Linked DNA regions of Homo sapiens: region 2 is linked to region 1. Evidence: fine-mapped expression QTL. Tissue or cell type: monocytes after LPS. Region 1 holds a variant in brackets; the other region holds the start of a gene. All regions are shown on one strand. Distances are between the middles of the regions.

Region 1 (2,768 bases):
GAATACAAAGTATATACCAGGTATATGCTGTATATACTGTATATACCTTGTATATATACCAGGTATATGCTGTATATACTGTATATAACTTGTATATATACCAGGTATATACTGTATATACTTTGTACATACTGTATATATACAGTATATGCTGTATATACTGTATATACTTTGTATATACAGTATATACTTTGTATTCAAGTAAATACTATTATCCTAAGTATAATCATCTGTTATATATACAGTATATACTGTATATATACAGTATATATACAGTATATACTGTATATATACAGTTACTTTATATACAGTTAAGAACTTTACAACAGAATAATCCAGTATGCCTCCTCCCTCATCCTTTGTGCTATTGTTGTCATTATATATATGTATATATATATATACATACACACATATGTTATGAAATCAGTCACACATTTTTGTTGTTTTAGCTTTAATCATTTGGTTGTTTTTTCAAAAATATTATGAAAAAAAGTCATTTTTTATAGTCTGAAAGTGACTAATTCCTTCCACTTTTTTAAATCTGAAAAAAAGTCTTCATTTTACCCTAATTTTTGAGGAATATTTTCACTGGATATAGAATTCTGGGTTGATTGATTTGTTTTTCTCTTAGGACTCTGGGTGTGTCATTCCATTGTCTTCTGGCCTCCATCAGAAGTCAACCATTGTTCATCTTATTTTTCTTTTTGTATGAATGTGTCCTTCATGTTTGGTTGCTTCCAAGCTTTTCTCTTTATCTTTGGTGGTCATGAGGTTGACTATAATATTCCAAAGTGTGATTTTCTTTGTATTTATACTTCTTGGTGTTTGTTGAGCTTCTTATATTTGTAAACTGATGTTTTCCACCAAATTTGGAGGGATTAGAGCCATCATGTCTTCAAATATTTTCTCTGCCCCATTTCCCCATTTCTGTCTCTCTCTCTGTGACTACAAGGATATATAGATCTCTTGATATTGTCCCACACGTCATTGAGGCTCTGTCCATTCTTATCTCAATCTTTTTTTCTTCTCTATTATATTGATTAGATAATTTCTATTGATTTGTCCTCAATCTCAAGAACCTCAATCTCCAGACTTCTGAAATCTTGAATCTGTTGTTAAGTGCGTCTTCAAACTTTTCATTTCAGATATTGAATTTTTCAGTTCTAGAATTTCCACTTGAATAACATGGGTAAAGTTTTGCTCATCTGAATTGACCATAAGTTTATCTTCAGAGATACTTACCCTTGGTCAAAGCTATAGAATTTATTAACTAAAGATAAAAGATGTTTTCTAACCACCTAAAGATGAAAGAAGCATTAGAAATGTGAATGTTGGCTGGGCACGATGCTCACACCTGTAATCCCAGCACTTTGGGAGGCCGAGCCTGGCAAACTCCTAAGGTTAGGAGTTCAAGACCACCCTGGTCAACATGGAGAAACACCATCTCTACTAAAACTACAAAATTAGCTGGGTGTGGTGGTGGGCACCTATAATGCCACTTACTCAGGAGGCTGAGGCAGAAGAATCAATTGAACCTGGGAGGCGGAGGTTGCAGTAAGCCAAGATTGCACCACTGCACTCCAGCCTGTGCAACAGAGTAACACCCTGTCC[C/GCC]CCCCCCCCAAAAAAAAAAAAAAGAAAAGAAAAGAAAAAGAAAAAGAAATGTGAATGTTTTAGGAAAAGAAATTCTAAAAGCTTTGTAACTAAAGATAAACTACAGTGTTGAATATGGGTATCAACTTTAGTCTCCACTTTCTTTATATCATCAGTTAACATTGTTGTTATTATTCCAGAATAAAAGAAAAAAGGGAGGAATGGATGAAACAAAAAGTAACAGGGCCTAGAAATTAGAGTGGATTCTAAAAGAAAAGATGGGAAGATAAAGAGAAATTTGATCTTTTTGTAATTCTTTGCAGATCCATAGTTTAGACAGACAGCAACATGGCGATTTTCTGACGACTCATGGGAGGAACATTAGCCAGTTCCAGACTTTTTCTGTTTCCCCTCTGTGTTGAAAATTAAACTCAAAACTTAACAGGTCAGGAAATGTCTACCCACCTGATTCCACTTGCTGCTGTAGCAACTTTTATTCTTAATTTACTTTGCTGAACCTCTGTTATGCACCGGTAAGATAGGAATAATAAGAAAATTTATTATTTTGATAGAATATTTGACTGAGTCAGCCAGGCGCGGTGGCTTACGCCTGTAATTCCAGCACTGTGAGAGGCCGAGGCAGGCGTATCACAAGGTCAAGAAATCAAGACCATCCTGGCCAACATGGTGAAACTCCGTATCTACTAAAAATACAAAAATTAGCTGGGTGTGGTGGCACATGCCTGTAGTCCCAGCTACTCGGGAGGCTGAGGCAGGAGAATCTCTTGAACCTGGGAGGCAGAGGTTGCAGTGAGCCAAGATTGCGCCACTGCACTCCAGCCTGGGCGACAGAGCGAGACGCTGTCAAAAAAAAAAAAAAATTGACTGAGTCAAATTAATAAGTCATCAGTGATTCACATCAGAGGAGAAACTAAAAGTTTTTAGATAATTGCTAAGTGTCAGGCACTGTGCTAAACAGCTAAGATAGGTTGTTTCGTTTTTTTCATACAAAAACAGTGAGAAATTTTCTTATTGCTATCTTATGGGTGAGGAACAGAGGTTCAACAAAGTAAATTAAGAATAAAAGTTGCTACAATGGCAAGCAGAGTCACGTGGGTAGACATTTCCTGAACCAAGTGAGTTTTGAGTTTAATTTTCAACACAGAGTGGAAAGAGAA
Region 2 (2,500 bases), 84 kb after region 1:
TATTTGGCTACTACCTTATTATGTGCTGCATATGAATATCAGTTTCACCCACTCAGGTCAAAGAAATGTAAGTACAGATAGAGAAACATATCATGCCTTTAATCTGTCAAAGTGGTAGAAATTTAATATCAACTTGCAGCTCCCATCTTTCTCCTATGCTAAATTACAAGGCATTAGGGGACAGAGTGGGGGTTTGAGAGCCCCTCTGGTCCTTGAGTCAGCTTTCTCTGTCGGTTACTGTTGAGAAATCCACCATTTGCTGGTCCCAGGCCACGTTAATAGTTCCACTCATGTTATTGTTAAGATGTCCCTGCTTCCTGTCCATGAATTTCTGTGTTAAACCTGAGGGTTCAGAATCATTGTTGCCCCTGTGCCACACATCATCTGCAATCTCCAATGCTGTCCATGACCTTATCTGCTTGAGTGATGTTCCCCAAATTTCAGTCTTTTTCCTACTATACCCACAATTTTTTATTCATTTTTTGACATATCTGGTATCCTCAGTATTATTAACTTAATAGTTTTTAAAATAAGTGAAAAGAATTTAAAAGGAACAACATTGCTGCAATAGAAAACTAGTATCACTTGTCATAAAAAGAAGGCAGCTACAAACACATTTTATGAAACCCAAATAATATCATTACATTCTTGATGGATACTGTCTGCCAGGTCACATACTTCTTAGCCTAAACTTATGCAATAAAACCAGAAGGATGCTCTGCTCCAATGGGAGGGATTCTGGGAGAGGGAAATAAAATGGGTCAACGTTTCACAAGTAGAATCCCATTTTTGTTCATTTATACTTAGATCTAGAGGCAGGGTGGTGTGATAGGGAAAGCACAGGCCTAAAAGTCAGATCTAAGTTATACAAGTCACGGTCATTGACTCGAGATGACCGGAAACAGGCCCGCTTTACTTTCTGGACCATTCTCCCTTCCTCCCTAAAATGCAAGAATCCAACAGCCTAGACTTCCCTTCTGCGTACCGGCTTGCCCTGAGGAGCTGAACTACATCTCCCACAATGCGCCGCGCGCGGCGCCAGGAATGCCTATCGCCGCCTCAGACAGCTTTCAGTCTGTCCCTCCTACAACTCCCACAAGGCCCCTCGGCCCCGGGCCGCGGCCCGGCCCGGAGTGGGGGCGGGCGGAGGCGCGGGAGTTATGGAGGGGGCGGGCTCTGCAGGGAAGTGCGTCAGAGGAGGCGCGGGGAGAGTAGGGTGCTGTGGTCTGAGCTAGAGGGTGAAGCTGGCGGAGCAGGAGGATGGGCGGTGAGTGAGCGGGACCTGCGTCGCCGGGCAGGGGTCGCGTCGCGGTTCCATGTTCCCGGCGGTTTGAAGAGGGGCCCCCTTCCCGGGCGTGGTCGGGCTGGGCGGGTTCCGAGCGGCGGATTTGTCCCAGGGCCGAGCCCTCTAGGGCGGGGCCTGGTCGGGTACCGGGGGACCCTGGCCCGGGGCCGAGCACGGCTGCCCCGCCCCAGCCCTGGCCTTCTCCGGCCCCGCCGTGAGGCCCAGGAGGTGGCTGCTGCAGGCGTCCGGCTTGGACGAACCGCCGTTCCCAGTGCTGGGACCCTTTAAGGTCATTTGAGAGCACCAGGATGAAGGGGGGATTTTTAAAAAATCAAAATACAAATCCAACTTTTTGAGTTTTCGTTGTCATTGCTCTTATCTTTCCTGAGTCACTTCCCATTTTCCAAACTCAGCAACCCCAGTTTGCGAGTCTGTTTTCATGAACCTTTGTAAGGTGTTTGGTGCGGTCACGGTGTATACTTGCCGTGTAGTATTTGACTCAGCGCGATCTGCCTTGAGTCATTTTACCGCGGCCATTTACTACTGCCGTTGAGCCCTGTCCACGCCTTGGGAGTGTTGATATGTTGAGAGTTTTCTGTCTGGCTGAGGAGGGATCATTTAGTTTTTGCGGACGTATGTTGCACTGAGGATTTAGGGAGAGAGCAAGATTTCTGTTGAGGAGGTTCAGAAGTATAAGGAATCGGGAGAGTAGATAGGAGTGAAGCATTTGGCAGCGTAAAGAAGCTTGGCTTAGCTTTAATGGATTAGGGAGAGATTGCTATCTAGCATTATTACATGTTATTGTTCTCTTTGCTATTTTATACACCTAGAACAACCTTTCCCTCGGGGTTAACAAACATCTTCAACTCTGTTTTCTGTATGGCTCCTGACTCTTACCTTTGTTTTAGGAGGCTTCCCTCTTCAGAGGAAACTGGGAGAAGCCAATTTCCACTGCTTCTTTTTCCTGTGCCTTTTTAACACTCAAACCCAGAACACTTAATCCTCTGCAGCTCGTGCAAAAATTCAGTCTGTAATTTAAAATGTGTGCACGGTACACTGCTGACCATGGGCATGTCTATTGTTTGTATCTGTAATGTGTATGTCCATTTCAGTGTTGTCTGTTTTAGTATGCAGGTGATAGACTAGAGAACAAGACCTCTGTCTCCGTAGCATCCTGGGTATGTGAGCATTCAATAAGTACTTTTATGAGAATGA

Which allele goes with the higher level. Alleles are on the strand shown, and positions count from the first base shown. SD is a standard deviation of normalised expression in the study named.
As copies of GCC replace C in region 1, the expression in monocytes after LPS of the gene that starts at base 1,214 in region 2 goes down (large effect, 0.84 SD a copy in Kim-Hellmuth 2017).

What was found. PIP is the estimated chance that this variant, and not a neighbour inherited with it, causes the effect.
Region 2: it holds the start of CLDND1, and the variant in region 1 is fine-mapped to the expression of CLDND1 in monocytes after LPS (Kim-Hellmuth 2017, PIP 0.94).

Annotation. Positions count from the first base shown.
Region 1 is chr3:98,605,524-98,608,291 of GRCh38, reverse strand. No RefSeq gene overlaps it. Among named protein-coding and RNA genes, the nearest start is that of CPOX, 13 kb to the right of the region's middle. The variant C/GCC (reference allele first, on the strand shown) is at 1,612.
Region 2 is chr3:98,521,616-98,524,115 of GRCh38, reverse strand. It overlaps CLDND1 (claudin domain containing 1), which reads left to right and starts at 1,214. Exons shown (of 5, transcript NM_001040181.2): 1 at 1,214-1,267. CLDND1-AS1 (CLDND1 antisense RNA 1) reads right to left here and starts at 1,546. Exons shown (of 2, transcript NR_198998.1): 1 at 1,283-1,546. RefSeq lists silencers at 968-1,607, 1,658-1,767.